Homo sapiens: one gene and its partners. The protein of the gene in region 4 purifies or fractionates together with the protein of the main gene of each other region. This does not show direct contact. Each region holds a gene or a part of one and is shown on either strand. Other genes may lie near its edges.

Region 1 (4,352 bases), on a different chromosome or scaffold from region 4:
ATTGTAATCCCCAATGTTCCCTCTTCCTCCTGCTCTGGTGATGGAAGATGCACCCACTTTCCCTTCACCTTTCACTTGACTGTAAGTTTCCTGAGGACTCCTCAGCCACGCTTCCTATGATAGAGCCTGCAGACGTGAGCCAATTAAACCTCTTTTCTTTATAAATTACCCAGTCTTGGTTATTTCTCTATAGCAGTGTGAGAATGGACTAATACAGATGGCATTTTCCTTTTGTGATGACTGCCAAGAGTATCAGTCCTAGGTGCGGCTCAATTTCAACAGCCTTAAAATATACTACCCATACATACAAGCTTCACAAATCATTTTTGGTGCTGATCTGCCACACTAACTATATTTTACAGGATAATGTCTATTTCCACATTCCCATTTTAAAGTATGAATCCTGGCTGGGCTCGGTGGCTCATGCCTGTAATCCCAGCACTTTGGGAGGCTGAGGCGGGAGGATCACCTGAGGTCAGGAGTTTGAGACCAACCTGGCCAACATAGTGAAACCCCATCTCTTCTAAAAATACAAAAAATTAGCTGGGCATGGTGGCCCACGCCTGTAATCCCTGCTACTCAGGAGGCTGAGGCAGGAGAATCACTTGAACCCAGGAGGTGGAGGTTGCAGTGAAGCGAGATCATGCCACTGCACTGCAGCCTGGGCAACAGAGCAAGACTCCATCTCAAAAAAAAGAAAAAAAAAAGTATGAATCCTTACAAACCTCTTAAAATGCATCATAAAATAAAGTTGAGGAACATATACACAAGCAGGAAAACTCACCTGCAATGTGTTCATTTTCTGCTGCTCTTGGAAACATGCAGAGACTGTGGCTGATAGACCTAGAGGGGCAGAAGCAGGTCACTGAAGTCATGAGGGCTCCGGCCTGCAAAGGCAGAAATCACCTGCATAAGAACCGCAAAAGAAAGCTCAATAGGCTAACACCCTGTGAACACTCAACCTGCAAACACTCAGAAGGGTCTAAAAGAGTGATACAGGGTTTCACCATGTTGGCCAGGCTGGTCTCAAATTCTGGCCTCAAGTGATCCGCCTGCCTGGGCCAACATGGCAAAACCCCGTCTCTACTTAAAAATAACAAAAAAAATTAGCCAGGCATAGAGTCACATGCCTGTAGTCCCAGCTACTCAGGAGGCTGAGGCACGAGAATCCTTTGAACCTGGGAGGTGGAAGTTGCAGTGAGCCGAGACCACGCTGTTGCATTCCAGACTGGGTGAGAGACACTGTCTCAAAAAAAAAAAAAAAAAAAAAAAGAGTGATAGGGGAAGCATGCGCCTGTAACTCTAAGATAATCAGGTAGTAATTAGATGAGTTAGACTCTCATGGGTAACATGACTCCTTTTACAAATAGTCTGCCATCATCATCAAATACAAGGCGCAAAAAGAAAAAAAATTCCCATTATACGGCTCATGTTTTTTGTGGTTTGTTGGTTGAGACAGGGTCTCAATCTGCCACCCAGGCTGGAGTGCAGTGGTGCATTCACGGCTCTCTGCAGCCTCGACCTCCTGGGCTCCATCCATCCTCCCACTTCAGCCTCCTGAGTAGCTGGGACCACAGATGCATCCCAGCATGCCTGGCGACTTTTGTATTTTTTGTAGTCAGGGTGTCCCCATGTTGTCTAGGCTGGTCTCTAACTCCTGGTCTCAAGGGATACTCTTGCCCTAGCCCCGCAAAATGCTCGGATTACAGGTGTGAGCCACTGCATCCCGCCCGCATTTTCTTATTGTCTCTTTAAACTGCTTAAAATAAAATAAGCCATAGGAATTGAGTATGTGAGCTCTCAGAAATGAAATGAATGTGTATAAAATATGGTTTTGTTTCTAAATTATCTAACTGAACTTGGTTATTGCTGCACCTAATAATCTTCTATTAAGAAAACTAGGATACGGGAGAAAGAACACTGGCCTGGGAGATAAGTCTCCTGGGTTCTACTATGAGCAGCTCTACCCACAAAGCCGGTGACCTGGTCAAGTCACCCACCTAAGGCCCAGTCTCTTCCCCTAGCAACTGAGGCAGCAGCAGAGAATCCCTGCAGACTGTTCCTGCATTACTACGATTCTCCCAGGGCAGGTCTAAGGGGGGGGATCAGCAGACACTTAAGTGAGAGAATAGAAGTGCTGACGGACGTTTAGAGGCGGTCGAAATCTGGAGCACGGAGAGGAGGAGGAAGGACTGTTAGGGGTTAGCGGGGAGTGGAGACGACGTCCGCAGCTGAGGGTGGTGACACCCTCCACGCCTCCGTAAGCCTCGTCCTCCCAGATCTTCCCATGCAGCACCTGTTCGGTGCAGCCGGACCCTGCCCTCAAACCCAACACATGTCTCTCCGGCAAGCAATCGGGACCCTCCCTCTGCCCCACACTCAAAGGTCCCCAACACAAGGTGACTTCACCCAGGCCCTTCTCGCTCCGGGCCCAAAAACCCAAGACTTACCCTCCTGGGGCTCCGCAGCCTCTGCCCCACGGCTCCCGAGAGGCCGGGGCGGGCTGCTGTCGCTGGCGCGCGCGTCTGCTCGCGAGGTCCCCTCCTGTCCACCTCACCAAGGCTGTTCTGCTCCCGAGGGGCCCGGGCCGGGCCTACGGGGCAAATCCAGGCGGGTGTCCTTCTCGGGGCCCAGATCCGCCTCCCTGGGGCTCCCGGCCCCTCTGGCCCCAGCGCCGCCGGCTCCGGGGTTCACGCTCGGGGGTCCCAGCTCGAGCCTCTACCCGGCCCGCGCGAACCCTGGGCCGCACAGCTCCCGCCCGCCTAGGTGCTGGTCCGGGCGGTCAGCATCCAGCCCCGCAGACTCGGTGATTCTCGTCCACTAGAAGCCAAAGCCTGGGAACGAGAGCAAGCGATGACCTGAAGAGGCACAGGAAGCGAGGGCAGTGCGGAGGTGGCGCGCATGTGCGAACACGCACGCAGGGAGAGGTGCACAAGCGCAGGAGTGCACCGGAAGTCCGCCTCCCGGGACACCCACCGCGGGTCCCAGGACAAGTAACGGACTCTATTTCCCAGGAGCCTACGCGCTCCCCCAGTTTTGGGGCCGTCTTAAATGTCTCTACCCTGCCTAAAGGTTAAGAAGCTCCAGGCTATGAGCTTTGGCAGCCCTGAACCCCGGACTGAACTTCACCTTTGTCTTTACTCCCTTTTAGGGTCAAATCCAGGGCTCCGTTACTGGGTCCTGGAGCCCAAGTCCTCTGGGTTAGAACGGAGTTTCCCATAAGGAGAAGGAAAGGAAAGGGTGTATCATGGTCACTGCTCTGAAATGCTGAGAAGTTTCACTCAAATACTGGGACAGGATAAATGCCCAGCGATGCTTTCCAAGGAACAAAAAGAAAATAGAATTTGTAGCTGGGCGCAGTGGCTCAAGCCTGTAATCCCAGCACTTTGGGAGGCCGAGGCGGGCAGATCGCGAGGTCAAGAGATAGAGATCATCCTGGCCAACATGATGAAACCCTGTCTCTACTAAAAATACAAAAATTAGCTGGGCGTGGTGGCGCGTGCCTGTAATCCCAGCTACTCGGGAGGCTAAGGCAGGAGAATCACTTGAACCTGGGAGGTGGAGGTTGCAGTGAGCCGAGATCACGCCACTGCACTCCATCCTGGCGACAAAGCGAGACTCCATAGCTTTTCTAGATCACACAGCGAATGCCTAAAAACCGTAGAGAAATAAGGACATACACACACAAACTGAACGAGGAAGAGATACCTGTGATCCTACCTTCCCCAGGAGGATTATGTTTAGGGTTAGGTTATGTTGACCAAAAAGAGTCAAAGTCTATAAAGAGTTTTATTCTGGGCCTCCTATTTGAGTGACCATGGCTGGTGACACAGCCTCAGGGGGTCCTGAGAACGTGAGCCCAAAGTAGTTGGGTTACAGCTTGGTTTTATGCATCTTAGGGAGACAGTAGTTACAGGCAAAGACATAAATCAATACATGGGAAGTATATGTTGGGTCAGCCAGGAAAGGCTTTCAGGTCACTAGTAGATTGAAAGACTGGCAGTTGGTTCAGAGTTAAGTGTTGGCTGAACAGCTGGAAGACTACATAAAGAAATGGGCCATTGCGGTGGCTCATGCCTGTATTCCCAGCATTTTGGGAGGGTGAGCTGGGAGGATCCCTTGAGGCCAGGAGTTCAAGGACAGCCTGGGCAACACAGCGAGACCCCCACTTCTACAAAAAAAAAAATAATTATCCAGGTGTGGTGGTGCATGCCTGTAGACTCAGCTACTCAGGAGGCTGAGATGGGAGGATCGCTTGAGCCTGGGAAGTTGAGGCTACAGTGAGCCATGATGGCACCACTGCATTCCAGCTTGGGCAACAGAGAAGAAAAGAAAGAGAGAGAGAGAAAAAG
Region 2 (3,604 bases), on a different chromosome or scaffold from region 4:
AGAGTACACATTTTGGGATTTATGGGCTACCATGTCCATACGATCTTCAGCAGCCCTTTAAGAATGTAACTGTCCAACATGGCGAAATCCTGTCCCTACTAAAAACAGAAAAATTAGCCAGGTGTGGTGGCGGGCACCTTGGGTGGCTGAGGCAGAAGAATCGCTTGAACCCGGGAGGCGGAGGTTGCAGCGAGCTGAGATCGGGCCACTGCACTCCAGCCTGGGTGACAAAGCAAGACTCAGTCTCAAAGAAAAAAAAAGTAACTGTTATTCTAGCCAGGCGCGGTGGCTCATGCCTGTAATTCCAGTACTTTAGGAGGCCGAGGTTGGTGGATCACTGGAGTTCAGGAGTTCGAGACCAGCTAGGCAACATGGTGAATCTCTGTCTCTACTAAAAATATAAAAAATTAGTTGGGCGTGGTGGCGTGCGCCTGTGGTCCGGGCTACTCAGAAGGCTGAGGCTGAGACAGGAAAATTGCATTAATCTGGGAGGCGGGGGTTGCAGTGAGCCAAGAACACGCCACTGCACTCCAGCCTGGGCGACAGAGCGAGACTCAGTCTCAAAAAAAGAAAAAAGAATGTAACTGTCATTCTTAGCTCCCAGGCTGTGGGCCACACACAGGCCTTGATTTGCCAACCCCTGGTGTAGGGCAACATGTGCTGAGCAGAGTTTAGGTATTAGAATTTGGAAACAGATTGAAAAGTCCATCTCATCTGTGTCTCTTTAGAGGAAGAAATAGTTCTATAGGCCTTCTGTGAACGGATTTTTAAAAAAACCTGACTGGCCACCCCTGGCCCACAGCAGTGTGTGTGCATAAGGCTGTGTGGCCAGGCCCAGGTCCCTTTCCAACCTCTTCCTTACCTTGCACCACCAACAGCTCCTGGCACGTCCCTTAAATCATCGGAAGCTGCCTGATGGAGAAAGAAACACAGTCAGTCCCCACCTACTGCAGCCAGCCCCAGCCATTTACTGGTTGCCAGACCCTGAGCTGGGCATTCTGCCCTCCATCACCGCCCTGAGGAGGCTCCCCATCCCCACGCTGTACCCTGGAGCCCACTCTGGGACCCTGGGGCCCACTCTGGGACCCAAGGGCAGAGACCCACTTGGTTATCCCACCAGCACACAGCAGGGCTGGGATTCCCACTCGCAACCTAGGGCCAGAGCCTCTCGCCACTCTCCAGGGATCCAGCATCTGACTGCTCCTTGTGCCACGCAAGGGTCCAGGTAGACAGTCTACAAATTTGGTCCGACCCTAACTGGCCAGCAGTGGACACAGCCCTGGCAAGTCCCTCCCAATGGTCTCTGTGCACTGGGGAATACCTAGGGCTTGGGAATCTCTTGCTGTGTGACCCTGGAAAGGGTGATGGCAGAATACTGTGGAGTACTGAGGACAGACAAGGACTCTGCAAACTGTCCCAGTGTCACAAGGCCATAACCTTGTGCTGCTGCAGAGATGGGGCTGGAGGGAGGCCCAGGCACCAAGCACATTTGCGAAGCACACAGCAAGCACCCTTGCTTTCCTCCTGTCTTTCCTCAGGACAAAGGAAGGGGCCCCAGAACTCTCAGTAACAACCACAGAGGAGGCGCCAGAGTGAGACTGTTTCCCAGACCACCAGGGTGACATGCGGAAAGGCGCCGAGTGGCTCCAGGGGTGCCAGGAAACAGAGAAGAAACCCAAACAAGCCCCTGCACGAGGGTCTTTTGAAATGCCTTCCCCAGGGAAGCCTGCTCACAGGGTCAAGGGCCACCCTCTCCACCTGCCCCCCTCGTGCCCTGGGCCCAGTGACAGAGAACTGCCTGTTCCCATCAACCAAGGTGGGTGGGGAAGGGAAGGAGGGAGGCTGAAAATAAACCCTTAACCACTGTGTTTGTCAGGAAGACACTCAACCAGAGACAGGTCCAAGAGAAAGACCGTGGCACAAAGCAGAGGACGCCAAACCCTGGAAGCATCTGCCTCAGCTCCAGCTAGGCCACTTCCTACTGCACACAACCCCAAGCAGAAGAGTCCACCCACAGATGTATGGTCCCCAGAAGCGGGAAGAGGGCATTACCTGTCCCGCAGGGATGGACTCCAAGGAATCAGAACATCCCTGGGCAATGGGCTGGTGCTCGGGAGTCAGACTGTCAGTGGACGAGAGGCTGCTGGCCAGGGCCTCCTCCTGAACGAACATGATTCCTGGAGAGACCAGGGCGGGTGGGCAGGCAGGCAGGGTGGGTGGGGCGGGGAGAGCGGCTGTTCAACAAGTGGGGCTGGGCCCCTCAGGCTACTGGCATGGCGGGGGTTAGCCAGATCCCAAAACCCAGCCACATGGATTATAGAAGAAAATGTTAAAACTGAAATCTCAAAATAACTCAAGAAAGAACAAATGACTGCTTATCTAATCTCAGGGCAGGGAGAAGCATTCTGAGAATAAATGCAATGGAAAAAAACTGAGATGTGACTACATAAAAATTAAACTTCCACAGACACATTTTTTAAAAACCAGGATAGATTAAAACCAGATGAAATGAGAAAAGTGTTTGCAATATTTGACAAGGATTTATATCGCTAGTCTGTAAAAAGTTCTTACAGATTACAAAAATGAGGGAAGGTTGGAAACCTCATTAACAGACTGCAAAGGACGTGAACAGACATTCCGCAGAAGAACGGCCAGCGGATAGAACATGAAAAGAATGCTCGCTCTCAGAAGTACACAAAGAAAGGCAAGCTGAAACAAGAGACAAGTGTTGCCTCTCAACTTCTGCCAAAGTCAGACTGACTGTGTGGCCTGGCCCTGACCTCGCTGGGCAGAGGCCGGCACAGGCATGCAAGCTGGCCCACCCATCCAGAGAAGAGTTTGGAGGTACATCCATCAAGAGCCTGAAATGTGTTCACTCCTGGAGCATTTTCCCAGACGGTGACTAGACATGACCCCGTCCCCTGATTTGTCATCTCTGCAGGACTCATAGATACACAGGGCACGGGACAATTCACCAGGGGGCCAGCCCTTGCAGGCCTTGGTATCCAGCAGGGCTGCTGAGTCCAGCCTGAGCCCACATCCACAGTCCCACTTACCACAGGACGTGCCCACTGACCTGCCCTGGGGCCACCTCCCACGGACAGCAGCACTCTGACCCACTGCGTCCCGTAAATGCACAGTGTTCCTAAACCCCGCTGAAGCTGTTTTATGAACGTAGCCTATCTGGACCTGTTACTCCACCTCAGATCACCTCTAGACCACTTGAAGGTAAAGCCTTTGTGAACATGTTCCTGACTGCCGCCAGCAGGGTGAACACTGGGCATCGGCCGCCAGTCTCACTGAGGCCTACAGGAGCCCTAGGCCTACCTCCACAGCCCAGCATCGCCACAGCCCAGTGAAATGACCCCGAGTCCTCTGAGCCCCACAGGTCGAGACCCCCGACCAGCTCAGCTGCTCCCCGGGACAGGACAACTCACACAGCCTGGGTCCTCTGCCCACAAGCGAGGCAGGCAGGTGGGCCCAAGCTCAAACGCCCCCACGAAGCGAAGCAGCAGGGGGTAGGCAGGCAGGAAGGATGGCAAGCACACAGCCATGCATGAAGCACCCTGATGGGCCACGCTGGGCACCTGCCCAGGCCGCTGCT
Region 3 (3,604 bases), 6.5 Mb from region 4:
GCAGGGCCCCAAAAAGCATCTGCTTCTCATCATTCTTTTCCCCAAGGCCCTGGTGGCTCCCAGGAAGGGAAGCAACCTCTCTGGGCCTCCGTAGACTAATAATAATACTAGTAATCCTAACGATACTAGCTAAGGCTCATGTAAATTCATTAGCAAGTGCCATATGTGTTAACACATTTAATGCTTGTCAACCTCATGAGGCCAGCTCTCTTATTACTCCCAGCTTACAGATGAGAAAACTGAGGCCCAGAGTGGTTAACTGCCTTGCATAAGGCCACACAGCTGGTAAGCGGTGGAGCTGGGATTTGAATCCAAGCAGTCCGGCTCCAGGTTCCCTGCAATATTCCCAAGGGAATGGGTGGCGGAATTCCTCATTCTGCCCCTATCAGGACCCCCTCAGCTCCATGCCAATCCTCACAGCCACCATCTGGTTATCATCTACCTCATGCCAAGCATTTCACAGTCCTCGTTAATGGGCACAAGCACACTGTGACCCTTTTACAGACAGGCAAACTGAGGCTGAGGGATGTGATGAGGCTGATCAAAAGTCACGTGGCCCACAACGAGCACAGCTGGGATTCAAACCCAGGCCTATCCCTCCCAGTCTCACCTTGGCGTCGCTGCGTTCTCTCACTCTACTGGCTACAGGTGTCACTGCTCAGGGGATTGTAAGCCAGCTCCAGCACAAAAATCATCATCAAGACAATCATCCCTCATTTCCCATCTCGCCTCACAGGTATAAAGCACCTTCTTATGCAGTAATATCTCTGAGCTTCCCAGCAGCTCGCCAGAGAAGACAAATTATTCCCATTTTCCAGATAAGGAAACTGAGACTCAGTTGGTGAACTGCCTGTCTCTGGTTATAAACTCAAACCAGGTCTCCTTACCCAGAGCCTCTGCTCTGCGACCACTTGTCCCACACAAATCATGAGCCATGATTCTTACCCATGCCCTCCAGGCAGACCCTCTACTCCTGCAAGGACCCGTCCTACCCCATCAGAAACATAATTGTGGCAGGTTCTATTATTGCTCAGCAAATGTTTCTTCAGCCTCCATGAGAGGAGTAGACTTCAACTCATTGATGTCAGGCTTGCCACGTGACTTGCTTCAGCCTATAGCATGAGAGCAGAAGTGACAGCTTCTCAGTTCAGAACGGAGGCTTCTGTTGTCCACCACAGAAGAACACGCCCTGGCTGGCTGCCACCCTTCAGCCTGTGAATCTGGATGAAGATTCACGAGCCAGACCTGAACCCAATCCAAAGCCTAGGGCCAGCCTTGCTGGTGAAGCCTAGCTAAGGTCAGCCAAGCTACCTGCTGACTCGTGAGCATGAAACAAATGTTTGCTGTTAAAGGCCACTGCGATGTAGGAGATGTTTGTTACACAGTATGATCACAGAAAAGCTTGACTAATACAGGGACCACGTATGTCCAGAAAGACTCGTGTGTACATGGGCAAATATCTTCCGAGACAGAGTCTCCAGCAGTTTGTATTAAAACCCAAGGGCCAGGCTGGGTGTGGTGGCTCACATCTGCAATCCTACCACTTTGGGAGGCTGAGGCAGCAGGATCGCTTGAGGAGTTTGAAACTAGCCTGGGTAATGTGGCAAAATCTCGTCTCTACAAAAATTAGCCAGGCGTGGTGGTGCATGCCTGTAATCCCAGCTACTTGGGAGGCTGAGGTGGGAGGACCACCTGAGCCCAGGAGGTTGAGACTGCAGTGAACTGAGATCGCACCACTGCATTCCAGCCTGGATGAAAGAGCAAGACCCTGTCTCAAAACAAAAACAACAACAACAAAAAGAACCCCAAGGGCAACAAAATGTTGTCACTTATAAGAACTCTCACCTTCCCTCAGGCCAGAGGCCATGTCCTATGGCCAAAGACAAGAGACAGCCAAACACTGTTCCTTCTCTCTGAAATATACAAAGAGGCTGTCTCTCGCACAGCTGTGGTAAGAGTGTGAAAGGTATAGCCACTCTGCTGGGAAATTGGGCAGGTCATTTCAACGTTCTAAACACCCTTCCTCCCTAAAGTTCCACATCCTGGAAATCTGTCCTCCAGCCTACTACAACAAATGTGCAAAGACATGTCAACAGGGATGTTAACTGCGGCACTCGGTCATAGCAAAAAAAAAAAAAAAAAAAAAAGAACCTGAAAAACAACTCAATGTCCATCAACAGGGGATCGGTTAAATAAGCTCATAGCACCTCATGCACTGGAAATTATTCAGTTTTTTCTTTTTTTTTTTTTTTTTTGAGACGGAGTCTTGCCCTGTCACCCAGGCTAAAGTGCAGTGGCGCGATCTCAGCTCACTGCAACACTCGCCTCCCTGGGTTCAAGCAATTCTCCTGCCTCAGCCTCCCGAGTAGCTGGGATTACAGGCGCGTGCCACCATGCCTGGCTAATTTTTGTATTTTTAGTAGAGATGGGGTTTCACCATGTTGACCAGGCTGGTCTTGAACCCCTGACCTCAAGTGATCCGCCCGGCCGCCTAAAGTGCTGGGATTACAGGCCCGAGCCACCACAGCTGGCCTTATTCAGCTTTTAAAAATAATGAGGTAAATCAACACATTCTGAAATGGGAAAGTACCTAAATCTATTTTTAATTCACGTGTGAAATTATTTGTTTTATTTTATTTATTTATTTATTTATTTATTTATTTATTTATTTGAGACGGAGTCTCACTCTGTCGCCAGGCTGCAGTGCAGTGGTATGATCTCGATTCACTGCAATCTCCCTCCCAGGTACAAGTGATCCTCCCGCCTCAGCCCCACGAGTAGCTGGGACCACAGGCGCCACCACACCTGGCTAATTTTTGTATTTTTAGTAGAGACGGGGTTTCACCATGTTGGCCAGGCTGGTTTCGAACTCCTGACCTCAAATGATCCACCTCCCTCGGGGTCCCAAAGTGCTGGGATTACAGGCGTGAGCCACCGCGCCCGGCCGTATTTCATATTCTTAATGGAGACATGGCTATAGAACATTTCAAAGGTCACTTAACTGAGCAATTAACAAATGTAGCTGTGATAGCTTCTGCCCAGAAGTCAAGTCCATAATTATTTGCTTACTTGTCTCACCTTGCCCCCTTCCTTCTTCTCGTACAGTTGACCAGAGGATTCCTAAGGGCAGGTGATCTTTTGAATTTTTCACAAATAGAGTGCCTTGCCCACATAAGATGCTCAATAAAATATTCATTGCATTGAAGGAAAAAATATATATATGTGTGTGTGTGTGTATGTGCCTCGATTGTTTGTTAGCTTCCTTTTATTTTTACTTTTTGAGACAGAGTCTCACTCTGTTGCCCAGGCTGGAGTGCAGTGGCACCATCTAGCTCACTGCAAACTCCACCTCCCAGGTTCAAGTGATTCTCATGCCTCAGCCTCCTGAATAGCTGGGATTACAGGCAACTGCCATCACGCCTAGCTAATTTTTTTTAATTTTATTTTTATTTTTTTTTAGTAGAGATGGGGTTTCACCATGTTGGCCATGCTGGTCTCAAACTCCTGCCCTCAAGTGATCCGCCCACCTCTGACTCCCAAAGTGCTGAGATTACAGGTTTGAGTCACTGTGCTTGACCAGCTTCCTTTTATTTTTAATTTTAAT
Region 4 (3,092 bases):
AACACCCACCTTGGCATCCCCAGTTCCTACAACACCTTTTCTCCGCCCTGTCCACCAAGTTCCCCTTGTCCCCCATGTCCCTATGGTTAGGCCTGCTCACCAGCTTCACCCAGGGTTGGTACAGAGGATGCTGGCCCAGGGAGTACATCCACAGCATCTTCCAAGTTTGCTCCAAACTGGTGAGTTTCCAGCCTGACTTGGGTGTCGTCAGTTTGTGGGCCTAGGGGACAATTGTTGGCACTGATGAAGTGCTATAATGTGGGAGATTTCCATCCCTAGAAAGATGTTACTAGATTCTCCCATCTAACTGGCAGGCAGTGGGCCCAATCCAGTCAATCCCCTAGTCCTTTAAAAGATTAGGAACCTAGCTTGAAGATTCTTTTTTTTTTTTTTTTTTTTTTTCCTTTTTGTAGAGACAGAAGTCTCACTCTGTCTGCCTGGCTGGAGTGCAGTGGCGCAATCTCAGCTCACTGCAACCTCTGCCTCCTGAGTTCAAGCAATTCTCCTGCCTCAGCCTCCCGAGTAGCTGGGACTACAGGTGCACGCCGCCACACCCGGATAATTTATTTTGTATTTTAGTAGAGACAGGATTTCACCGTGTTGCCCAGGCTGGTCTCAAACTCCTAAGTTTAGGCAGTCCACCCACATCGGCCTCCCAAAGTGTCAGGATTACAGGCGTGAGCCAGAGAATTCTTCATTCTTTTTTGAGTCTCGCTCTGTCGCCCAGGCTAGAGTGCAGTGGCGCGATCTCTGCTCACTGCAACCTCTGCCTCTCCCGAGTTCTAGGTCCCTGCCTCAGCCTTCCGAGTAGCTGGGATTACAGGCGCCTGCCACTACACCTGGCTAATTTTTGTATTTTTAGTAGAGACAGGGTTTCACCATGTTGGCCATACTGGTCTCGAACTCCTGACCTCGTGGTCCGCCTGCTTTGGCCTCCCAAAGTGCTGGGGATTACAGGCGTGAGCCACTGCGCAGAGCCCTTCATTCTTAACAAACTTCCAGATCAGCAAAACTGTACAGTGAAGCTGGAAAACTTCCAGGTAACATTAAGACTACTCAGCTGCTTGCTTTTTCTGCTCAACAGGTGTGCTTCCTCCTGGGATGGACTTGAGTCATTTACAGGGAATATCTGGCCCCATCCTGGGTCAGCCCTTTTACCCTTTACCTGCTGCTAGTCACCCTCTCTTAAACCCTCGTCCTGGAACACCTCTGCATCTGGCAATGGTGCAACAGCAGCTACAGCGCTCAGGTAGGTTCAGGAATGTGACAGGTGAGTTTGGGACGGACTTAGGGAGTCTTGAAGCTTTGAGGACTAGTTTCCAGTGGAGATGAATTAACACTTTCATTCTTTAACTTGTTCTAAGTTTGGGACAAAGTGTAACCAGATAATAAGATGAAGTAAATTGACCTCTATGCAATTTGGGATTACTGTTCCTGCAAAGTCAGTGGGAAAAGCCAAGTGTTTTCTGGCTTTTTCCTTTGCCTGTTAGGAGAGAGGGCTGAGAATCCAACAGAGGTTCAGCATCCGGCCTGCCCAGGGTATATACCCCCTCACCAGTTCATGTTGCTGCTTCTGTGATGTGGTTACTTAGCCATGAGAAGTAGCGGTCATGTCATCCAGGGTGGGTTTTCAATACTGGTAGCTTCTGAATAGCTCAGCTTTCCATGGTACTGTTTTCTGGCATTGTTGGTATTTTGCAAAGGAGTTTCTAAAGAAGCCCTAGAAAAAATCCTCTAGTAAAGACTTTTCTTTGGATAGGGTTTGAATGAAGCAGGGTCTAATAAACTTTCCTTCTCATGCTGTGAATGATAACCCTTCTTATCTCCACAGTTCTGCATCCTCCAGGCTCTGGTTCCCATGCAGCAGCTGTCAGCGTTCAGACAACCCCTCAGAACGTGCCCAGCCGGTCAGGCCTGCCCCACATGCACTCCCAGCTGGAGCATCGCCCCAGCCAGAGGAGCAGCTCCCCTGTGGGCCTTGCCAAATGGTTTGGCTCAGATGTGCTACAGCAACCCCTGCCCTCCATGCCCGCCAAAGTTATCAGTGTAGATGAATTGGAATACCGACAGTGAGCAGGGCAGGCAGACTCAACTAAGCCCGGACCTGTGGTGGCACACTGGGCAGGACCCTGCTTCATCTCGGGTTGGTTTATGGGCTTTTACTTTGGAGCACTCTGTGTGAAGCTGTTTGGTGGAACCCATGCATCTGGTGTGGTCCGCATTATGATGGAAGGATCTTAACCAGTCGAGTGGAGTGTACATTGTCTGAATACAGGATGCACAATGTTGTCAATCCTGGAAATGGTCTTTCTTTTTTGTAAGATATGTGAATGAAGTGTTGGTGTCCTCACCAAGAGGTGGCACCTAAGGGTTCTGAGGAAATAAATGTATAGACCCTTATGTACAGACCTGTGTATAAACAACTTTTGTATATACATATAGGATAGCTTTTTTGAACTATACAGCTGTACATAAAAGTAGCTGATATTAGTTAGGCCTGTGTCAACAGTTTGGATTTTTTTCACTTGTACATTTGGGATTTTCTTTTGGTTGATTAAAATTGCATATGCTAAGTGTGTGAATGAAGTAACTGACATTGTTGTGTTTATTTCCTCTCTGAAACCCTTCCTAATTTTGTTTGGAGACAGGGTCTCACTCTGTGTCACCCAGGCTGGAGTACAGTGGTGCAATCGTGGCTCACTGCAGCTTCAACCTCCTGGGCTCAAGCGATCCTCTCACCTCAGCCTCCCAAGTAGATGGAACTACAGGCACATGCCACTAACTTTTTTCTTATTTTTTGTAGAGGCAGGGTCTTACCATGTAGCCCAAGCTAGTCTTCCTAATTTCTAACCAGCCAAGCTATGCTCAGTATGTTCCTTTAAGGAAGTGATCTGAAGTTTAAGTAAGTTAAGTTTTTCTTGAAAACCCATGGAAATTGGGCACTGTGGCTCACGCCTGTAATCTCAGCACTCTGGGAGGCAGAGGCAGGCGAATCACAAGGTCAAGAGATCAAGACCATCCTAGCCAAGATGGTGAAATCCCATCTCTACTAAAAATACAAAACTAGCTGGGCATGGTGGCCCACACTTGTA

What was found. The genes of interacting proteins can lie anywhere in the genome.
Region 1: the proteins of EIF4ENIF1 (region 4) and POM121C purify together in Homo sapiens (affinity purification with mass spectrometry, with the first as the bait; one large-scale study listed by BioGRID). This does not show direct contact.
Region 2: the proteins of EIF4ENIF1 (region 4) and NISCH purify together in Homo sapiens (affinity purification with mass spectrometry, with the first as the bait; one large-scale study listed by BioGRID). This does not show direct contact.
Region 3: the proteins of EIF4ENIF1 (region 4) and KIAA1671 purify together in Homo sapiens (affinity purification with mass spectrometry, with the first as the bait; one large-scale study listed by BioGRID). This does not show direct contact.

What each region holds. Positions count from the first base shown.
Region 1 is NC_000007.14:75,483,414-75,487,765, forward strand, and holds the start of POM121C (nuclear envelope pore membrane protein POM 121C), read right to left. Parts: upstream 2,887-4,352; 5' UTR 2,451-2,886; intron 907-2,450; exon of another isoform or gene 785-906; intron 1-784. UniProt on the Homo sapiens protein: Essential component of the nuclear pore complex (NPC). The repeat-containing domain may be involved in anchoring components of the pore complex to the pore membrane. When overexpressed in cells induces the formation of cytoplasmic annulate lamellae (AL).
Region 2 is NC_000003.12:52,483,086-52,486,689, reverse strand, and holds part of NISCH (nischarin), read right to left. Parts: intron 2,178-3,604; coding exon 2,053-2,177; intron 913-2,052; coding exon 863-912; intron 1-862. UniProt on the Homo sapiens protein: Acts either as the functional imidazoline-1 receptor (I1R) candidate or as a membrane-associated mediator of the I1R signaling.
Region 3 is NC_000022.11:24,959,198-24,962,801, reverse strand, and holds part of KIAA1671 (uncharacterized protein KIAA1671), read right to left. Parts: intron 1-3,604.
Region 4 is NC_000022.11:31,438,861-31,441,952, reverse strand, and holds the end of EIF4ENIF1 (eukaryotic translation initiation factor 4E transporter), read left to right. Parts: coding exon 1-179; intron 180-1,084; coding exon 1,085-1,249; intron 1,250-1,831; coding exon 1,832-2,073; 3' UTR 2,074-2,586; downstream 2,587-3,092. UniProt on the Homo sapiens protein: EIF4E-binding protein that regulates translation and stability of mRNAs in processing bodies (P-bodies). Plays a key role in P-bodies to coordinate the storage of translationally inactive mRNAs in the cytoplasm and prevent their degradation.